2 separate regions of the Homo sapiens genome follow, and region 2 is linked to region 1. Evidence: fine-mapped expression QTL. A gene starts in region 1. The other region holds a variant in brackets. All regions are shown on one strand. Distances are between the middles of the regions. Region 1 holds the start of CD320 (CD320 molecule). Region 2 holds the start of KANK3 (KN motif and ankyrin repeat domains 3).

Region 1 (11,237 bases):
GGAAGGGCAGGAGACAGATGCCTTCCTCTTGTCTCAACTGCAACAGGGCATTCCTTCCTCTTTTACTAATCCTCCTCATCACAGACCCTTTACCGGTGTCGGGCTGGGGGACGGTCAGGTCTTTCCTTTCCCACGAGGCCACATCTCAGGCTATCACATGGGGAGAAACCTTGGACAATGCCTGGCTTTCCTAGGCAGGGAACCCTGTGGCCTTCTGTGGTGTTTTGTGTCCCTGGGTACTTGAGATTAGGGAGTGGTGACGACTCTTAAGGAGCATGCTGCCTTCCAGCTTCTGTTTAACAAAGCACATCCTGCACTGCCCTTAATCCATTTAACTCTGAGTTGACATAGCACATGTCTCAGGGAGCACAGGGTTGGGGGTAAGATTACAGATTAAAATGGAGTCTCTTATGTCTACTTTCTACACAGACACATTAACAATCTGATTTCTCTTTCTTATCCCCACACCAGGCTGGAGTGCAGTGGTGTGATCTCGGCTCACTGCAAGCTCTGCCTCCCAGGGGTTCACGCCATTCTCCTGCCTCAGCCTGCCTAGTGGCTAGGACTACAAGTGCCCACCACTACACCTGGCTAAGTTTTTGTATTTTTAGTAGAGACGGGGTTTCACCGTGTTAGCCAGGATGGTCTTGATCTCCTGATCTCATGATCTGCCCGCGTTGGCCTCCCAAAGTGCTGGGATTACAGGCGTGAGCCACCATGCCCGGCCTCCATGCTGGGTTAATTTTTAAATGTTTCGTAGAGATGGGGTCTTGCTTTGTTGCCCAGGCCGTTCTCAAACTCCTGGGCTCAAGCGATCCTCCTGCCTTGGCCTCCCGAGTAGCTGGGACTACAAGTGAGAGTCACCATGCTCAGCAAGAGCTCATTTAGTCCAACCCAGGGGAGGGTAGAAGTTAGCGCCTCAGCCAGGACTCTGCATCCTACAAAACAGATGAAGTCCGGGGTCCCTCCAAGGGTCCTGTGAGAAACTGAGACATTACTGTTGATATAATTATGAATTCTTATTTTATTTATTTATTTTGAGACAGTCTCACTCTTATTGCACAGGCTGGAGTGCAGTGGCGCGATTTCGGCTCACTGCAACCTCCACCTCCTAGGATCAAGTGATTCTCCTGCCTCAGCCTCCCAAGTAGCTGGGATTACAGGCGCATGCCACCATGCCAGGCTAATTTTGTATTTTTAGTAGAGATGGGGTTTCACCATGTTGGTCAGGCCGGTCTTGAACTCCTGACCTCATGTGATCCTCTGGCCTCGGCCTCCCAAAGTGCTGGAATTACAGGTGTGAGCCACCATGCCCAGCCATGTATTCTTCTCAGAGACAGAAGTGTATAAACCTTGGGCTCCTCTCAAAAAGCAGTTTGGTCCCTGGTTTCAGGTGTCTTCTCTTAATTAAATGGGGACTCTAATAGCATCTACTTCAGAAAGCTGTTACGAGGGTTAGTCCTCATAATTAATATTTGTAAACTCTTGGAGCCTGGCACAGAGTCAGTGTCCTGCCTACCTCCTAATAACTCCACCAGTTAGATGGTGATGACCCCTCTTGCAGAAGAGGAAATCGAGGCTCACAGAAGCCAAGTGACTGGCCTGGGCCACACAGGCAGCAGTAAGCAGAAGCAGGATTTCAAACCAGTTTTCCTGGACTCCTGTTGGGGTCTGGGCTCTACAGCCAACTCACGGTGTGGGCAGTCCCTCAGCCTTCTTGAGCCTTGGTTTCTTCACATATAAAATAGGGATGCTAGACTTGCAGTGTGCTGAGATCTGGGAGGTGATGAGGTCAGGCAGGGCCTGCTCTGTACTTAAAACTCTGTGAGGTCTGGGCGCGGTGGCTCACGCCTGTAATCCCAGCACTTTGGGAGGCCGGGGAGGGCGGATCACCAGGTCAGGAGATCGAGACCATCGTGGCTAACATGTTGAAACCCTGTCTGTACTAAAAATACAAAAAATTAGCCAGGTGTGGTGGTGGGCGCCTGTAGTCCCAGCTATTCGGGAGGCTGAGGCAGGAGAGTGGTGTGAACCCGGGAGGCGGAGCTTGCAGCTCACTGAGATCGCGCCACTGCACTCCAGCCTGGGTGACAGAGTGAGACTCTGTCTCAAAAAAAAAAAAAAGAACTCTGTGAATAGGCCAGGCGCAGTGGTGTGTGCCTGTAATCCCAGTGACTCGGGAAGCTGAGGTGTGAGGATTGCTTGAGTTCTAGACTTGTTTGAGTAACACAGCGAGACCCCGTCTCTATTAGAAATTTTTTAGGCTGGGCATGGTAGCTCACGCCTGTAATCCCAGCACTTTGGGAGGCCGAGGTGAGAGGATCACTAGGGGTCAGGAGATCGACACCAGCCTGGCCAACAGGGCGAAACCCTGCCTCTACTGAAATACAAAAGTTAGGGGCGCTGTGGCTCTCGCCTGTAATCTCAGCACTTTGGGAGGCCGAGGCGGGTGGATCGCTTGAGCCCAGAAGTTCAAGACCAGCCTGAGCAGCATGGGGAAACCCCATCTCTACAAAAAATACAAAAATTAGCCGGGTGTGGTGGTGTGCACCCGTAGGCCCAGCTACTTGAAGGGCTGAGGCAGAAGGATCTCTTGAACCTGGGAGGTCGAGGAAGCTTCACTGAGCTGAGATTGCGCCACTGCACTCCAGCCTGGGTGACAAAGTGAGACCCTGTCTCATAAATAATAAACAAGAAAGAAAATACAAAAATTAGCCGGGAGTGATGGTGCACACCTGTAATCCCAGTTACTTGGGAGGCTGAGGCAAGAGAATCACTCAAGCCTGGGAGGCGGACGTTGCAGTGAACTGAGATTGTGCCACTGCACACCAGCCTGGGTGACAGAGCAAGAGTCTGTCTCAAAAAGAAGGAACTCAGTGGAGTGGTCCTTGTTGTCACCTTCTGATTCACTGGAGTCCAGCACCAGAGTGTGGCAAGATACCTTGTTCCCACACAGCCCCTTGCCATGCCCCCAGAGATGTGTGCATTTCCCAGGGAGGCCACTTCTGCCTTTTCCATTTCCTTGAGGCTCCTGGGAGGTCCTGTGCCTCCACCCCTGGGGCGCCTCCTCCATCACCCCACCCTCCTGCTTCCTTTCTTGCTTAGGCTGTGAAGTGTGTGAGCTCCACAGGCTCAGGTGGGTGGGGTGAGAGGGGAGGGTGCTCGTCCTGGACTTGCCGGCACAGGGTCTCCTGGGGGCTCCCTCTTGGCCAGCTCTGGGCCAGAGATGCGTTTTGCAGTTGCCATTTGCGCATGGATTCTCAGCCCCACCAGCCTGAGTCTTCCTGAGGGCGGTGCCCCATCTTCCTGGCTCTGCGCCCACACAGTAGCGCCTGCCATGCAGTTCTTGCCCAGTCTGAGGCAGGAATAGCTGGAGGCCATTGTCACCTGATCGCTTGGCCCTTTTGCCAGCATCCTGTTTTGAGGGGCAGCAGGAATGGGGGTGGGGGCCTTGTGTACGCTGGAGACCAAAAGTGGGAAGGGAGGAGCCCAGCTCTCCACAGTGGGTTCTGGGCCTGGGGGCCACAGCAGGGGGTTCATACAGGGCTCAGGGGAGAGAGGAGGCTTGCTAGCTCCCACCTGGCGTTGGCTGATCCTCTGAGGGGCTGCGTTGGAGGGGTTGGCATTCTGGAACACCCTGCTGTCTGTCCTGCAGGTCCAGAAAGTCCCTGTGGGTGTGTTTGTCCCGGGGCAGGTGTGGGCTCCCTCAGATCTTTCCACACTGTTCTTTGGAAACCCTCACTGAAGTCTTTCCCTCCTCCAGCTCTGCTGTAGCTGCCACTGAGAAGAAGGCGGTGACTCCAGCTCCTCCCATAAAGAGGTGGGAGCTGTCCTCGGACCAGCCTTACCTGTGACACTGCACCCTCACGGCCACCCGACTACTTTGCCTCCTTGGATTTCCTCCAGGGAGAATGTGACCTAATTTATGACAAATACGTAGAGCTCAGGTATCACTTCTAGTTTTACTTTAAAAAATAAAAAAATAGAGACAGAGTCTCACCATGTTTCCCAGGCTGATCTTGAACTCCTGGCCTCAAGCGATCCTCCTGCCTTGACCTCCCAAAGTGCTGGGATTACAGGCATGAGCCACCACACCTGGCCTGATTTTATTTTTATTTTTTAGACCTTCCCACTGAGGCCTCTGCTTGACCTTGGTCACCCTGTAGCTCAACGGGGAAGGCAAAGGACAGTGAGGGCTGCTTACAGGGAAGGCAGACCTAGGGCAGATCAGGAAAGGCCTCCCTGAGCCAGAAACCATTATGCTGGGGCTGTGGGATGAGAATGAGTTAGCTCCAGAAGGAAGGCAGCTGGTTCCTGGGGAGGAGATAGAAATCTGGCTGCAGGAGCCAGAGTTTTCGCGCTTGTCACCCAGGCTGGAACGCAACGGCACGATCTCAGGTCACTGCAACCTCTGCCTCCTGGGCTCAAGCAATTCTGCCTCAGCCTCCCGAGTAGCTGGGACTACGGGTGTGCACCACCATACCCGCTAATTTTTTTTTTTTTTTGTAGAGATGGCCAGGCTGGTCTCAAATTCCTGACCTCAGGTGATCCGCCCGCCTTGGCCTCCCAAAGTGTTGGGATTACAGGTGTGAGCCACCACGCCTGGCCCCTGATTTTAAGCAATACCCAGCTTACTTGGATTTTGGGGTGAAGTCAGTGCTGAGTCTCCCAACTCTGTTGGCACTCCAGGGGTGGGACAGACACTGTCCCTGGGTGCAGAGGCCCTGGAGACAGCACTGCCCTTTCCCCCAAAGGCCAGGCTCTGACCTTGAGAGTGGTGGGAGTGGGTGATCCTTCTGGGAGGTTGGACTCCCAGGACCGCTGGCTGTTGGGGAGCATTGATTGTGAAGACCAGTCAGGTGGGGTAAGGGGTGTATGTGCGGACACTCAGTAGGCCAGCCACAGACTTCTCACTTCTTTTTTTTTTTTGAGACAGAGTTTCGCTCTTGTTGCCCAGGCTAGAGTACAATGGCGCGATCACGGCTCACTATAACCTCTGCCTCCTGGGTTCAAGTGATTCTCTTGCCTCAGCCTCCCGAGTAGCTGGGATTACAGGCGCCTGCCACAAGCCCAGCTAATTTTTGTATTTTTAGTAGAGACGGGGTTTCGCCATGTTGGCCAGGCTGGTCTCAAACTCCTGACCTCAAGTGATCCGCCCACCTCTGCCTCCCGAAGTGTTGGGATTACAGGCGTGAGCCACCGCGCCTGGCCTAACTTCCATCTCTTGAGGGCTCCCACAGCCACTTCTCACATGAACCTTCCTCAGCACCTTCCCACTGAGGCTCCTGCTTGACCATGGTCACCCTGCAGCTCAACGGGGAAGGCAGAGGACAGTAAGGGCTGCTCACAGGGAAGGCAAACCTAGGGCAGATCAGGAAAGGCCTCCCTGAGCCAGATCCCATTATGCTGGGGCTGTGGGATAAGAATGAATTCGCCCCAGAAGGAAGGCAGCTGGTTCCTGGGGAGGAGACAGAAATCTGCAAAGGGAGGGTGTCCAAGTCTGGCTGCAGGAGCCACCCAGTGACCCTACGCAGGGGAGTGTCATGGCTTCCCCAGGGCACAGCCCCAGACCCTTCAGCAGCTAAAAAAGATCAGCTGTGGACCAAGAGGGTGCTGAGACCGCCCTGCCCTCTGGAAGGGGAAAGGCCACGGCTACAGGCAGCAGGTACCAGTGTCCCAGAGTGGGTCCTACAAAGGCTAACACCTTCCTGGAGAAGGTGGGATTCTGCTTGGGGCAAAAGGATGAATCAGATTCAGAAAGGTCAGGAGGGAAGGAAAGACTAGGCAGGGTGTGCAGAGGCCACAAGGAGGGCAAGACCCTAGGCAAGGCATGCCGCTGACGGCATCTGAACCAAGTTTTATGACCACAACTTTTTTTTTTTTTTGAGACAGAGTCTCACTCTGTCACCCAGGCTGGAGTTCAATGATGTGGTCTCGGCGCACTGCAACCTCCGCCTCCCGGGTTCAAGCGATTCTCCCATCTCAGCCTCCCTAGTAGCTGGGACTACAGGAGCATGTTACCACACCCGGCTAATTTTTGTATTTTTGGTAGAGACGGGAGTTTTACTATGTTGGCCAGGCTGGTTTAGAACTCCTGACCTCGTGATCCGCCTGCCTCGGCCTCCCAAAGTGCTGGGGTTAACAGGCGTGAGCCAGCGCGCCGGCCAACTTTTCTAACAAATGGGGTCTCACTGTCACCCACGCTGGAGTGCAGCCCCAAGTGATTCTCCCACCTCAGCCTCCTGAGTAGCTGGGACTACAAATTAGAGCCACCATGCCCAGCTAATTTTCTTTTTTCTTGAGGCGGGCGGGGACTTGCTGTGTTGCCCAGGCTGATCTCGAACTCCTGGGCTCAAGCGATCTGCCCGCCTCTGCTTCCCAAAATGCTGGGATCACACACGTGACCCACCGCGCCCGGCCTTTATTATTAAATTTAATTAATTAATTGATTTCCTTTCCTTTTTCCCCCCCAAGCAACCCGACTCCGAGAATGGACGTTTCATTTATTCATTTACTCACCAAATGTTTACTAAGAGCCTACTATGAGTCAAGCACTATGTGTCAGATCCTGAGAATAAAGCAGTGAGCAACAGAAGATCCCTGCCCTCCAGTAGCTAGCATTCTATGGGGACTCGGACAACAAACCAGAATAAGTAAATAAAATAAATTACCTGTCGGCGCCACAAAAGCAGTGGGATGAGGGAGGAAATGCGGAGTGCCTGAGGGGCGTGGCTGCCATATTAAAGAAGATCACGAGGCAGTAACATTTGCAGCAGTCCTCATTTGGAACGGGAAATAATGCAAATGAACACCAACAAATTCCTTCCCATCCCCAGAAGTTTCTAACTTCAAGCGGGCTCCATACCTTTCAACTGATCTGGTCACTGGGGAAAGTGGGGACGGGCCTCTAATTCTCTTTTCCCTGCTATTCTGACATTTACGGTACGCGTAGCCGCGGGCGCCGCAGAACTCAGGGGCTTGGGCCCCGCCCCAACCCCGCGCGTGCGCGTGCGCAGGGATAAGAGAGCGGTCTGGACAGCGCGTGGCCGGCGCCGCTGTGGGGACAGCATGAGCGGCGGTTGGATGGCGCAGGTTGGAGCGTGGCGAACAGGGGCTCTGGGCCTGGCGCTGCTGCTGCTGCTCGGCCTCGGACTAGGCCTGGAGGCCGCCGCGAGCCCGCTTTCCACCCCGACCTCTGCCCAGGCCGCAGGTGAGTGACGCCCCGCAGCGCGGGCTCCCACCCCTCGCGAGGCTTCGCCCCGCCGCCGCGCACCGACAACGCCTAGTCACTGGCTGCACCGCACGTCAGTTCATGACACTCCCCCAGCACGTGGACTTGGACTTCATCGCTTGTGGGAAGGCGCGCACTGGTGCTAGGAAGACCCCATGCTGGGGGAGGGGAGGAGGGTGTCTCCACCTGCCTTTAACGGTTTTGCTCCGGCCCTGCACACCGTCTCCACACCTGCTGTGCCCTGTCGTCCCCCATTGTCACCTCCAAGCCGCCCTTCATACCAGCGTGGTCAGGAAAGCTCTTAGCAGGCTCAGATTGTCCGACCGCTAATCACGCAGGACGGGTCACCTGGTGCCTCTCGCACCTTTGCCTTCCAAACCCTCGCGCCCAGGCCTTGTGACCGTTCCGCAACCGTCCCTGCCCTCCCAGTCTCTCCTCCTTTGTCCTCCATCCTTAGAGAACGCGAGGTCTCTCCCCCCCATGCTACTGCAGGCTCTCGCAGAGACTGGGGTCACAAGTTGAATATACCCCCGTGGACGTGTTCGCCCTGGCCTAAGAGGTATTGGTGGCCAGTGGGGACGGGCTCCCTCTCTGATACCCCTAGAGGCAGCTGGAGGGTTGGAGTGGCCTCCCTGTGCACTCAGGCACTCCCAACTTGCAGCCCTGGGCTCAGGCTCACACACTTTCCCAGCTCCTTTGTGCATTCCGCACTTCTAGGTCCCTGGACTCATCCCAAAGTCCCTGACATTCACGTTAAATGTTCCTGGGTTTTTTTTTGTTTGTTTTTTTTTAAGGAGGCAGCGTTCACGTTAACCAAGTACAAAAGTTTTTGTTTTTTTTTTTTTGAGTCTCCCTCTGTCGCCCTGGCTGGAGTGCAGTGCAATGTTGGCTCACTGCACCCTCCGCCTCCCGGGTTTAAGCAATTCTCATGCCTCAGCCTCCCGAGTAGCTTGGGACTACAGGCACCGTCACCATGCCCGGCTAATTTTTGTATTTTTAGTAGAGATGGGGTTTCACCATGTTGGCCAGACTGGTCTCGAACTCCTGACCTCAAGTGTTCTGTCCGCCTCAGCCTCCCAAAGTGCTGGGATTACAGGACAAAACTCTATACACAGTCTCTTTTTTCTCAGGATGTTGAGGTAGGGATTCCCAGCATACCCCGTTTACAGGTGAGGAAACTGAGGCCAGGAGAGAAAGTCACTGGTCACTGTAACTCCTGTCAGGCTTACACCCTATGAGGCGGGGACTGCTGTGCTCTACTGTCCACTTTGCAGAGGGATACACACTCCCGCAGTCCAGCGAAGGGAGGTCAGAGGTGTCAGGGCTGTGGAAGTCTGCGCCTGGGTGGAGAGCCACACCTGGAGGCTGCCAGATCTCCCGGGGGCGGGGAAGGAAGCAGGCACCGGTTTGTCCACAGCTCTTCTGGGATCCATAGAGCTCAGGGACCCTGTGGCAAGTAGGTGCAATTAGGCCTGAAGGCCGAGGAGGGGCTGGCAGTGGGGAGTGGGGGGTTGGAGGCTCATGGCTGGTGGGTAAAGGTGGAAGAGGTTAAAGGCCTTGGCAGAGTGAAGCTAAGCCAGGGTGGCGGATTTGCCACCTCCCCTGGCCGCACCCAGGAGGAAGCCGTAAAGGCCACTCCCTTCCTCTGTCCCTTGGCCCAGGTTGCGGGCCCCTCCGTGCCCCTCCAGGTCGGCAAGCAGCTGAGCTTCCCTGCTCAGAATCTAGGACAGCCGGGATCTTCTCTGGACCCAGCTTGGACCCTTATGTGACCTGTGTCCACTTATAATCAGGCACTGCCCTGGGTTTAGGCGGCCAGGTCACAGCCCTGACCTCCACAGAATGTCCAGTCTGTGGGTGGACAGGCATGACCAGGGCTTTAAGGACAGTTGTTAGACATGGGAGGCAGTGCTTCCTAGGTCTCCAAGAGGGACATGAGAACCCTCCCAGGAAATCAGCTGAGATCTGAAAATTGAGGGGAAAACACAGGGTGTAGGGAGGAGAGAGGGAAAGGCAAGTCTCTGGTGTCCTAATGGACCTTGGGGCCTGGGGCCTGGGGCTCTGGTGAGGAGCTGACACATTTAGGATGGGGAGAGTGATAGGTCTGGGAGGAATTCAGGAGGCGGGGCAACAGGACTTGGTGACTGAGCAGATTTTCTACCCAGTGCCTCAGTTTCCCACCCACTGCCTCAGTTTCCCTTTTGCTACGCAGAGGAGATAGACCCTCCCTGCTGACCTGAGCCCGGGAGCCTGACCCAGGGCATGTGGAAAAATGGCCCGTCCCTCAGTCTCTTTAACCACTGAGTTTGGAGGTCTCCCTGGCAGATCATCTCGCTATGAGGAGCCTGGTGAAGACTCTGGGATCAGCGAGACCTGAGTTCGAAGCCCAACTCCGCTACCAGCTCTTTTTTTTTTCTTTTTTGTGGTGACGGAGTCTCGTTCTGTCGCCCAGGCTGGAGTGCAGCAGTATGATTTCGGTTCATTGCAACCTCCATCTCCCAGGTTTAAGCGATTCTCATGCTTCAGCCTCCCGAGTAGCTGGCATTACAGGCGTGCACTACCACGCCCGGCTAATTTTTGTATTTTTAACAGAGACGGGGTTTCCATGTAGGCCAGGCTGGTCTCGAACTCGTGACCTCAAGTGATCCACCTGCCTCGGCCTGCCAAAGTGCTGAGATTACAGGCGTGAGCCACTGCACCCAGCCTCTGCCACCAGCTGTATGGCCTCCTCTTGGTTCCTTTCTCTGTAACCTGGGGAGTGCAGTAGCACCTGCCCAGTGGGGCTCTTGAGCCCAGGAACTGCTACACTCTGAACCCCACTCGTACTAGGGGCTCAGTAACAAGCAGCCGCCAGTGTGGTTCCTATATCCCGGGACTTCGCCTGTCTCCTGCGGATCACAGCCAGTGACTACTGTGCTCTTGGAGAAAGGTCCAGCCTCCAGCTTCCCAGGCTTCATTTGCATCCATCTCGCAGGCCCCAGCTCAGGCTCGTGCCCACCCACCAAGTTCCAGTGCCGCACCAGTGGCTTATGCGTGCCCCTCACCTGGCGCTGCGACAGGGACTTGGACTGCAGCGATGGCAGCGATGAGGAGGAGTGCAGTGAGTGGCCACGCCCCTTGGCGGGGCTTACAGGGGGCGGGGCCTGAGGGTGGTTTGTCAGGGGCCAGGCACGCGGAGGTGGAGCTTGTGGGAAAGGCAGGGCCGCAGGGATGGGTGCGACTTGGGTCTGTGGGTCATAAGAAGCGGGGTCTAAGATGGGCTTGGGCTGGGCGCAGTGGCTCACGCCTGCAATCCCAGCACTTTGGGAGGCTAGGGTGGGAGGATCGATCACTTGATCCTGGGAGGTTGCCGCTGCAGTGAGCTAGGATTGTGCCAGTGCACTCCAGCCTGGGCAACAGAGTAAGACTGTCTCAGGAAAAAAAAAGAAAAAGAAAAAAAAAAGAAAAATGAAAGAAAGGAAAGAAAGGAAGGAAAGAGAGAGGGAGGGAGCCAGGTACGGTGGCTCACACATGTAATCCCAGCACTTTGGGAGGCCAAGGCAGGCGGATCACTTGAGGTCAGGCGTTCGAGACCAGCCTGGCCAACACAGTGAAACCCCATCTCTACTAAAAATACAAAAGTTAGCTGGATGTGGCGGCAGGCCCCTGTAATCCCAGCTAGTCAGGAGGCTAAGGCAGGAGAATCACTTGACCCTGGGAGGCAGAGGTTTCAGTGAGTCGAGATTGCGCCACTGCACTGCAGCCTGGGCAGCAAAGGGAGACCCCGTCTCAAAAGAAAAAATAAAGAAAGAAACAAACAAACAAATAGAATAAAGTGGGCTTGTAGGAAGGTAGAGCTAGTGGGGTCTCAGGGGAAGAGCTTGCAGGGAGGCCTGTCCTTAGAAAGTGGAGTTAACAGTTGCAGGGGGCGGAGCCTTAGGAAGGGAGCATTTTTTTGGGCTCAGCTGTTCTTAGAGGGTGGGGCTTGCAGGGGATGGGGTTTCAGGGAGTACCTGGGCCTTCTTGGGTG
Region 2 (11,237 bases), 35 kb before region 1:
CTAGTGAAAGAACAGAACGCCATCAGTAGTCATGTCAAAGTAATCAAATCTGAGTCTGACCCCAGTTCTAGAAGCAACCGCCAATTTGCAGGGAATACCAAGGACAGAAGAACATCCTGAACTAACTACACAATGAGTGTAGGATCAGCAACATTTAGACCATAGGAAACACTTCAGGACAAGCAGCCAATTGTGCGATCCTTTTTTTTTTTTTCCTTCCTTCCTTCCTTCCTTCCTTCCTTCCTTCCTTCCTTCCTTCCTTCCTTCCTTCTTTCCTTCCTCCTTCCCTTCCCCTCCCTTCCTCCCTTCCTCCCTTCCTCCCTTTCTCTCTTTCTCTCTTTCTTTCTTTCTTTCACAGGGTCTCACTCTGTTTCCCAGGCTGGAGTGCAGTGATGTGATCACAGCTCACTGCAGCCTTGATCACCTGGGCTCGAGCGATCCTCCCACCTCAGCCTCCCCAGTAGCTGGGACTACAGGTGCATGCCACCATACCCAGCTAATTTTTGTAGTTTTTGTAGAGATGGGGGGTCTCACTATATTGCCCAGGATAATCTCGAACTCCTGGGCTCAACCGTTCCTGCTGCCTCGGCCTCCCAAAGTGCTGGGATTACAGGTGTGAGGCACCATGCCCAGGCATGCAATGCTTCTATTGTAAGGGAAAGGGAGGGATGGAGAGGAACCTGTGAATTAAAAGAGGCTTAGGCCGGGCGCGGTGGCTCACACCTGTAATCCCAGCACTTTGGGAGTCCCAGGTGGGCAGATCACCTGAGATCGGGAGTTCCAGACCAGCCTGGCCAACATGGAGAAACTCCATCTCTACTAAAAATACAAAAATTAGCCGGACGTGGTGGCGCATGCCTGTAATCCCAGCTACTCAGGAGGCTGAGGCAGGAGAATCGCTTGAATCTAAGAGGCAGAGGTTGCAGTGAGCCAAGATTGCACCACTGGACTCCAGCCTGGGCAACAAGAGTGAAACTGCATCTCAAAAAAATAAAATTAAAAATAAATAAATAAATAAATAAACAGGCTTAGGCCGGGCGCGGTGGCTCGTGCCAGTAATCCCAACACTATGGGAGGCTGAGGCTGGTCGATCACAAGGTCAGGAGATCGAGACCATCCTGACCAACATGGTGAAACCCCATCTCTACTAAAATACAAAAAATTAGCTGGGCATGGTGGCTTGTGCCTGTAGTCCCAGCTGCTCTGGAGGCTGAGGCAGGGGAATCGGTTGAACCTGGGAGATGGAGGTTGCAGTGAGCCAAGATCACGCCACTGCACTCTAACCTGGTAACAGAGCAAGACTCCGTCTCAAAAAAAAAAAAAAAAAAACGGGCAGGGGGAGCTTAAAAGACATATCATTTTCTTTTTGAATGGGCAAGACTAAACTCCAGTGTCTACAGATTCACATTTGGATAATAAAACTATACATGTGCAGTGGCGCTCACCTGTCTCCCAGCTACTCAGGAGGCTAAGGATCATTTGAGCCCAGGAGTTCCAGGCTGCAGTGAGCATTGATTGCACCACTGCACTCCAGCCTGAACAATACAGTGAGACTCTGTCTCGAAATAAATAAATAAGCAAACAAACAGAAACCTACACAGGGCCGGGCGTGTTGGCTCATGCCTGTAATCCCAGCACTTTGGGAGGCCGAGGCAGGTGGATCACCTGAAGCCAGGAGCTCAAGACCAGCATGGTCAACATGGTGAAACCCCATCTCTACTAAAAATACAAAAAATCTGGTCATGGTAGCGGGCACCTGTAATCTCAACTACTCAGGAGGCTGAGGCAGGAGAATCATTTGAACCCAGGAGACTGCAGTGAGCTGAGATCATGCCACTGCACTCCAGCCTGGGCAACAGAGCGAGATTCTGTCTCAAAAATAAATAAATAAATAAACAAACAAATAAATAAAAGTCACAAAACAGTGGTTACTTAGGGAGTGAGGGGCAGCTGTGACTAGGACATAGTCCACGGAGGCGCTTCTGGGGTAGCTGGCAAGTGCAGTTGGTTGGCCCGGGTGGAGGCGACGATGACCTTCATCTCAGCACTGGGTTTCTGAAACTTAGCACTCTTGACATTCAGGCCACATAATTCTTGGTCCTTGGGGATGGCCTGTGCATTGCAGGGTGGTTAGCTACATTCCTGGCCTCCGCCCTCTAGAGGCCAAAAACACCCGCCTCCTCATTACCCAAAAGTGCTCCTGGATATTGTCAAACATTCTCCCATGGGGCAAAATCACTCCTGGTTGAGAACTACCCCCTGGAGGAACTCCTTAAACTATACATTTGTGGGGTTTTTTGTTGTTGTTGTTGGTTTTGTTTTGTTTTTTGTTTTTGTTTTTTACTTTTAATTGCATTTATTTTAATGCTGAATTTACTCCCATGCCATAAGTTTTTGTTTCTTCAGTTTCTTCTGGGATATCTTTTTCTTTCTTTTTTTTTTTTCCGAGATGGAGTTTCACTCTTGTTGCTCAGGCTGGAGTGCGATGGTGCGATCTCGGCTCACCGCAACCTCTGCCACCCGGGTTCAAATGATTCTCCTGCCTCAGCCTCCTCCTGAGTAGCTGGGATTACATGCATGCGCCACCACGCTCGGCTAATTTTATATTTTAAGTAGAAATGGGGTTTCTCCATGTTGGTCAGGCTGGTCTCGACCTCCCGACCTCAGGTGATCCACCCGCCTCGGCCTCCCAAAATGCTGGGATTACAGGCGTGAGCCACTGCGCCCGGCCTTGGGATATCTTTTTCTTTTGGGCAACCTCCTCCTCTGGCTTAGGAAAAATCTGTTCCTTTTCAGTAAGAATCATCTCAGTGTGGCAGGGAGAACTCATTCATGGGTTAATCCGACCGGAGTTCCGTAGGTCTGGCGACGCATCTTAGGTACTTTGTTCACTTGGATATGCTCAATGACCAGAGAATCTACATATAACCCTTAAGTTCAGCATTACTCTCTGCATTTTTTTTTTTTTTGAGACGGAGTCTCGCTCTACTGCCCAGGATGGAGTGCAGTGGCACAATCTCGGCTTTGCAACCTCCGCCTCCCGGGTTCAAGCAATTCTCCTGCCTCAGCCTCCCTGGTAGCTGGGACTACAGGCACGTGCCACCACACCCAGCTAATTTTTGTATTTTTAGTAGAGATGGGGTTTCACCGTGTTGGCCAGGCTGGTCTCGAACTCCTGACCTCAGGTGATCCGCCCACCTCAGCCTCCCAAAGTGCTGGGATTACACGTGTGAGCCACCATGCCCGGCCACTCTCTGCATTTTTAAGCATGTACAGCAAAAATTCAGCACTTTTTCTGGGCCACTGACTTTGTGTCCAGCCCCACTGCTTGGCCTGGGCACACCTGCCAACTCCACCATTGTAATGTTGGAATGGTACACACAGTTTCTGTAAAGTGACATCTTTCAGATACTTCGTGGATTTTCATATATACATACCCTTGATGGCCTGGGCAGTTTCATGAGTGTTCTCCAAGTGAACATGAAGATTTGAACCTCTTGATTTGCATGATTTTGTGGGGTTCTCTGGGTCAAGTAAATAGCGAACCATTTTCCCAGATTACCTCAGGCCACTTAGGGAAAGAGTATACATTTGTTTTATGTGGTTTCTTGAATCTGCTGTGTGTGTGCATCTATGGACGCTTTATTTTACAACTATATATATATATATATATATATATATATATATATATATATTTTTTTTTTTTTTTTTTTTTTTTTGAGACAGAGTTTCACTCTCGTTGCCCAGGCTGGAATGCAATGGCTCACTCTCGGCTCACTGCAACCTCTGCCTCCCAGGTTCAAGTGATTCTCCTGCCTCAGCCTCCCAAGTAGCTGTGATTACAGGCATGCACCACTACACTGGGATAATTTTGTGTTTTTAGTAGAGACGGAGTTTCTCCATGTTGGTCAGGCTGGTCTCGAACTCCCGATATCAGGTGATCTGCCTGCCCTGGCCTCCCAAAGTGCTGGGATTACAGGCGTGAGCCACCGCACCCGGCCACAATAAAAATATTTTAGGGCTGGGTGCGGTGGCTCACGCCTGTAATCCCAGCACTTTGGGAGGCTGAGGCAGGCAGATCACGAGGTCAGGAGATCAAGACCATCCTGGCTAACACGGTGAAACCCCGTCTCTACTAAAAATACAAAAACAGCCAGGTGTGGTGGTGGGTGCCTATAGTCCCAGCTATTCGGGAGGCTGAGACAGGAGAATGGCATGAACCCGGGAGGCGGATCTTGCAGTGAGTGGAGATCACACCACTGTACTCCAGCCTGGGTGACAGAGCAAGACTCCGTCTCAAAAAAAAAAAAAAATTATATATATATATATATATATATATATATATATATACACACACACACACACACATATATTTTAAACATTCCAATGGAGGCCAAGTGCAGCGGCTCATGCCTGTTATGCCACTATTTAGGGAGGCTGAGGCAGGAGAATCACTTGAACCCAGGAATTTGCGACCAGCCTGGGCAACATAGAGAGACCCTGTCCTTACAAAAATAAGAAACCTGCTGGACGTGGTAGCACATGCCTGTAGTCCCAGCTACTCGGGAGGTTGAGGTGGGAGGATTGCTTGAGTCTGGGAGTTCAAGGCTGCAGTGAGCCATAGGTCTTGCCACAGAACTCCAGCATCGGCAACAGAGTAAACTTTGTCTCAAAGGAACAAAGAAGAAAATTCCAATGGAGTTTCTGTGGGGAAACGCGACAGAATTCCACAGTTTTAACTGAAAGAATCAACCAATTAAAATAGCCCAGGAATTTTGTTTTTTTTTAAAAAGTATCAGATGTTAAAATACATTTTAAAATATTACTATATTCTGGCCAGGTGCTGTGGCTTATGCCTGTGATCCCAGCACTTTGTGAGGCCAAGGCAGGTGGATTGCTTGAGCCAAGGAGTTGAAGACCAGCCTGGGCAAAGTAGTAAAAGCCCGTCTCTACTAAAAATAAAAAAAATTAGCTAGGCGTAGCACACACTTGTAATCCCAGCTACTTGGGAGGCTGAGGCAGGAGGATCTCTTTAACCTGGGAGGCGGAGTTTGTAGTGAGCTGAGATATTGTGCCACAGCACTCTACCCTGGGCAACAGAATGAGACCCTGACTCAAAAAAGAAAAAGAAAACATTATTTCAGCAAACATTTATTAAGCATCTACTGTGTACTAGGGTCGCTGGATAAAGCAGTTATCAAAACCAGTTTCCTGTTCCCATGGTGCTGACACTTAATTTAGAGACAGAGTCTCACTCTGTTGCCCAGGCTGGTCTTGAGCTGCTGGGCTCAAAAGATCCTCCCACCTCAGCCTCAGGAGGTGCTAGGATTACAGGCATGAGCCACCCCACCTGGCCTTGGTGCCGACACTTTAGTGAGATGGCAAGCAGGTAAACCAATAAATAACCAGCCAGGCATGGTGGCTCACGCCTGTAATCCCAGCACTTTGGGAGGCTGAGGTGGGCGGATCACCTGAGGTCAGGAGTTCGAGACCAGCCTGGGCAACATGGTGAAACCCTGTCTCTACTAAAAATACAAAAATTAGCTGGGCGTGGTGGTGTGCGCCTGTAATCCCAGCTACTTAGAAGGCTGAGGCAGGAGAATCGCTTGAACCCCAGGAGGCAGAGGTTGCAGTGAGCCAAGATCGCACCACTGCACTCCAGCCTGGGACAGAGCGAGACTCTGTCTAAA[A/G]AAAAATTAAATTAAATTAAAAAATAAACCAAATAAATAACTGAGTGTTTCGTTTTTGTCTTTTTGTTTTGTTGTTTTCTTTTGTTTTGAGAACTAGGTCTTGCTATGTTGCCCAGGCTGGTCTCAACTCCTGGCTCAAGCTATCCTCCCATCTATGCCTCCCTAAATACTGGATTTACAGGCGTGAGTCACTGCGCCTGCCAATAACAGAGTCTGCTTTTTTTTTTTTTTCCAGATAGTAAAAGTAGCTATTAGGTTAATACAATAGAGTGATGAGAAAAATACTAACTGGGGAGGGGCTATGTCAGGAATTTAGGGGGCAGCAACACAAAAGCTGAACCTCAGAAAGTAGGGAAGGCCGGGCGCGGTGGCTCACGCCTGTAATCCCAACACTTTGGGAGGCTGAGGCGGGCGGATCACTTGAGGTCAGGAGTTCCAGACCAGCCCGGCCAACATGGTGAAACCCCATCTCTACTAAAAATACAAATATTAGCTGGACGTGGTGGTGTGTGTCTGTAATCCCAGCTACTCGGGAGGCTGAGGCAGGAGAATTGCTTGAACCCAGGAGGCGGAGGTTGCAGTGAGTGTCACTGCACTCCAGCCTGGGACTCCGTCTCAAAAAACAAAAACAAAACAAAACAAAAAACAGTAGGGGAGCCTCAAAAAGTACCTACGTGTACAGGTGCAAGGGAAAGCATTTCAGGTAGGTGGAACAGCATGTGCAGAGGCCCTGCGGTGGGGAAGATCCGGGACCTGATACTTCACCCAGGCACTGCGAAATAAGTGCCAGTTATAGAAATCCCACCGGGTTACTCTTCTACTCATAGTTCTCCCATGGCTCCCTCGTGCCTGTGGATCAAATCCAAGCTCCTTGGCCCGGCGCTGGGCAGAGACTTGACCTCTGCTGGTGCAGAAATGCCGCCAGCCAGCGCTCGGCGACCGTCACTCCAGGGCCCGCCCTCAGTCACCACCCCTACATTCCAGGCCCCGCCTGCCTGTCCCACCCCACCGTCCCACTGGGCGGCTTGGAGAGCCTCGGGTGCTGGTTGGCTGGCGTGGCCGTCAGTTAGGGCGAAGGCCTTGATAATCAGTCCCCGGACTTCGAGGGGGCGGGCTCGGGTGCGGGCGCGGCTGGGGCTGCGGCTTCAGGTAAATTGCCAGCTTGCGGGGACACGGATGGGGGACCCCTGGGTGGGTGGATTCGGGGACGCACCGGGACCCGGCGCTGCGCTGCGTTTCCAGCCCCACTGAGGGCTCTGCCCGCTGCGACGGGGCGGGCGTCGTGTCCTCTGGCCGGGACCCCTCCCACATTGGAAGTCCCAGGTGGGTAGCGAGCAGAGTGGGGGGCTCTGGAGGCGTGGGCTTGCCCCCCTCTCGCCCTTCGGGAGCTCACTGCGGGGCTCGTTCGCTCCCTAATGCCACAACCGGCCCTGGGACCCTTTCCCGGGACGGCCTGGGGACCCCAGCCAGCCCCTCGCGCTGGGCTGGGTGTGGGAGCGTGTCACGGAAATGGTGTTTTGGGGAGGGACGCACGGCCCCCGGACCCGCAGACAATGGGTAGCGGATGGAACCGCCCGGCGGCGCTTCCTGTAGGAAACTGCTCTGTCTCTGTGCGGCTAGGACGACCTGGGGGTGGACGGGTGATGATGACTTTAACACCCACCTTCCTGCCGCCACCGGTCCCCCACCCACCCACCTCAAGAGTCTGAGAGTCCCAGCAGACATCAGGGGCTGCCAGTACTCAGGGCCTCCTGGAAGGCGCCCTCTCCCCAGGACTGGGATCCTCACTGGCCTGCCGTGGCCCCCACCACTCCGGTTTGGTGATCACAGCTCTGCGTCCCAAAATAGTCCCTGGGGCGGGAGAGGGGGCGTGTGGCGTCGGCTCTGACGGCCTAATGAGGGGGTCTCAGGCACAGAATCCGGATCTAGCTGTGACAGTCAGGGCAGGGAGCGGAGGAGAGGGAAGGCAGCTAAACGCCCCACTTAGTGAGGCCCCAGCCCCTGAAGCCGCAGAGGTGGTGGGCACCTCCGCCCCCAATCAGAGTCTGACACAGGTGTAGGCTGGGAGGGACAAGCCCCCTGAGGCTCCTTGGTGGTTCATGCCTGTTATCCCAGCACTTTGGGAGGTCAAGTAGGGCTGATCTCTTGAGGTCAGGAGTTTGAGACCAGACTGACCAACATGATGAAACCCGTCTCTACTAAAAATTCAAAAATTAGCCAGCTGTGGTGGCAAGTGCCTGTAATCCCAGCTACTCAGGATGCTGAGGCAGGAGAGTCGCTTGAACCCTGGGCTCAGAGGTTGCAGTGAGCCGAGATCCTGCCACTGCACTCCAGCCTGGGTGACAGAGACTCCGTCTCAAAAATAAAAATAAAAGAAAGCATTCAAGTGTAGTGGCCAAAGCAAGGACTCTGGAAGACCTGCCTGGGTTTAAAACCTGCCTCTGCCTGTTTATGACAGGACCCAGGCAGGACACTAAACTGTTCTGTGTCTCAGTTTCTCCATCTGTACAATAGGGGAAGGGACAATGATCATAGGAAATCCAACCTCAGTGGATTTAGCTAGGATTTTAAAAAATAAGTCAAGGTCAGGTGCAGTAGCTCATGCTTGTAATCCCAGCACTCTGGGAGGCTGAACTGGGAAGATTGCTTGAGCCCAGGAGTTGGAGGCCAGCCTGGGCAATATAGCAAGACACCTGTATCTACAAAAAATAAAATTAGGCCGGGCACGGCTCACGCCTGGTTTGAGACCAGCCTGGCCAACATGGTGAAACTCCGTCTCTACTAAAAATACAAAAATTAGCCAGGCATGGTGGTGCACACCTGTAATCCCAGCTGCTTGGGAGGCTGAGGCAGGAGAATCACTTGAACCCGGGAGGCGGAGATTGCAGTGAGCTGAGATTGTGCCACTGCACTCCAGCCTGGGCGACAGAGCATGACTCCATCTAAAACAAAAAACCAAAAAATTTAAAATATTAGCCTGAATTAGCCAGGTGTAGAGGTCCATTCCTGTAGTCTCAGCTATTTGTGAGGCTGAGGCGGATCACTTGAGCTCAGGGGTTCAAGGCCACAGTGAGCTATGATCGAGCCACTGACTCCAGCCTGGGTGACAGAGTGAGCGAGACATTGCCTCTAAAAAAAAAAAAAAAAAAAGTAAATATCCATAAATTCCTTAGACTAGAGGCTGGCCCATAGTAAATATCAAAAGCGTTGTTATTATTTGACATTCTGGAGGGATCCATTCCTTTCTTAGCCCAGCCTCTGGATCCAACTGCTTCAGCTAGTTTAGGTCTTAGGAATGGCCCACAGCTGTCTTCTGAGATCCCAGGGCCTGGGATTTGGGTGTGACCAGGTCACCGGAGGAGGACGCTGACCCCATTGCGTCATACGGCCAGCTGTGTGAGAAGTAGACCCAGACCCCCCAACCCTTGATCTGGACTTTTTCCACAACCCAGTTCTTCCCTGGCAATTTCCTGAAAACAAGTGATGAACGGCATTGGCTGTCCTCTGCGATGACCCGCTGGCCTGTTGATCCACCCCTTGCAGCTGGTGTGAAGGGACGGGAAACAGCTGCTTGGGGACTGGAAGAGGCCCCCTGCCTGGCCTTGGAGTGGGAAGGGAGAGGTCAGGGACCTCGGCCAGACAGAAGTGGGAAATGGAGTTACGGTTTCCCCAGCGGTGGAGTAGGGTAATGAGTCAGGAGGGCTGGTGGGTGCTCAGTGCTTCATAGCATCAGGCACACAGGTGGTCCCAGGGATTCGAGAAGCCAGAAGGGGTGGCTGGGAGTGTTGCCATGTGGTTAGCACAGACGGGCCGTGGCCCAGGGAGAGGATGAAGTGGGTTTGGCAGATGCCTGTCAGTGGAGGACTGGACAGGTAAAGGGCAGTCAGAAGCTGTGGCAGGGACCTGCTGACAAGGGTTCCGCAGATGGGCAGAGCCCAATCTGAGGGTGCTTCCCACAGGCAACTGATTTAATTGTTCTGTGCCTCAGTTTCTCCATCTGTAAAATATGAATAATAATACTACTTTGCAGTATGCAAAGTGTTGTATGGGGGCTGTGTGTGTGTGTGTGTGTGTGTGTGTGTATATATATATATATATGGTTTTTTTTTTTTGAGACGGAGTCTGGCTCTGTCCCCCAGGCTGGAGTGCAGTGGCATGATCTCAGCTCACTGCAACCTCTGCCTCCCAGGTTCAAGCGATTCTCCTGCCTCAGCCTCCTGAGTAGCTGGGACTACAGGCATGCACCATTGTGTCCAGCTATGGCGATGACATTTAATCAGGAAGGGCACACCGTAGGCACTTTCCCCTCCCTGAAGGTTTTCCATGTGGGCTTTCCAAAGCCCATCTTTCCCACTCCATGTTCCTGTGCTTTTCTTTTCTTTTCTTTTCTTTTTTTTTTTTTTTTTTTTTGAGACAAGGTCTTGCTCTGTCAACCAGGCTGGAATGCAGTGGCATGATCATAACTCACTGCAGCCTGCATCTCCTGGACTCAAGAGATACTCCTGCCTCAGCTTCTTGAGTAGCTGGGACTACAGGTGCATGCCAACACATCCAGCTAATTTTTGTGTTTTTTGTAGAGATGGGGTTTCGCTATTTTATTTATTTATTTAGAGACAGAGCTTCGCTCTTGTTGCCCAGGCTGGAGAGCAATGGCTTGTGAGCCACTGTGCTTGGTGGTTTCACTATTTAAAAACAAACAAACAAAAGAGATAGTGGCCAGGCACCTTGGCTCATGCCTGTAATCCCAGCACTTTGGGATGCCGAGGTGGGTGGATCACCTGAGGTCAGGAGTTCGAGACCAGCCTGGCCAACATGATGAAACCCTATCTCTACTAAAAATACAAAAAATTAGCCAGGTATAGTAGCAGTGGCTGTAATCCCAGCTACTCAGGAGGCTGAGGCAGGAGAATCACTTGAACCCAGGAGGCAGAGGTTGCAGTGAGCCAAGATTGTGCCACTGCACTCTAGCCTGGGCAACAAGAGGGAAATTCTGTCTCAAAAAAAAAAAAAAACAAAAAGAGATAGGGTCTCGCTATGTTGCGCAGGTGGGTCTTGACTCCTAGGCTCAAGCGATCCTTCTGCTTTGGCTTCCCAGAGTGCTGAGATTTCACCCTGTGCTTTTTGAACCAAAGTTCTGGATTCAATATTTGTCCTTGTTAAATATCACATTATTATATGTGGCCCAATCTTCCTCACTTTCTTACAGCCTCCATCATGTCATCCAAACAGTCACTTTCCCAGGCAGCCCCATGAATAGTCACAGCTCTGACAACCCAGGTGTTTTGTGTTTGCATTACAAACTCTTACAAGCCAAGGATCAAGCCTGTGACACTCCGCTAGCGACATTCCAGGGAGACAAGTATCCGTTGATTTGTTGATTTGGATCTTTGGTGCATCCAGCCCGCAATTCCCCATCATTCCTGCAAGAGTTTCACAACTGACCTTGGTAAAAATTTGGATGCACAATTACATCCTTTTTTTTTTTTTTTTTTTTTTTTTTGAGACGGAATCTCGCTCTGTTGCCAGGCTGAAGTGCAGTGGCGCCAC

The links.
Region 2: its variant is fine-mapped to the expression of CD320 in whole blood (INTERVAL, PIP above 0.99).

What each region holds. Positions count from the first base shown.
Region 1 is chr19:8,304,122-8,315,358 of GRCh38, reverse strand. It overlaps CD320 (CD320 molecule), which reads left to right and starts at 7,001. Exons shown (of 5, transcript NM_016579.4): 1 at 7,001-7,210; 2 at 10,203-10,328. The coding sequence starts at 7,069. It overlaps NDUFA7 (NADH:ubiquinone oxidoreductase subunit A7), which reads left to right. Exons shown (of 4, transcript NM_005001.5): 4 at 3,764-4,075. The coding sequence ends at 3,854. RefSeq lists enhancers at 2,816-3,418, 6,173-6,702, 6,758-7,497, 7,382-7,511, 7,498-8,238 and 1 more and silencers at 6,899-7,237, 7,212-7,301.
Region 2 is chr19:8,338,827-8,350,063 of GRCh38, reverse strand. KANK3 (KN motif and ankyrin repeat domains 3) reads left to right here and starts at 6,802. Exons shown (of 11, transcript NM_198471.3): 1 at 6,802-6,839. It also overlaps the pseudogene LOC100129682. RefSeq lists enhancers at 6,568-7,359, 9,294-9,794. The variant A/G (reference allele first, on the strand shown) is at 5,691.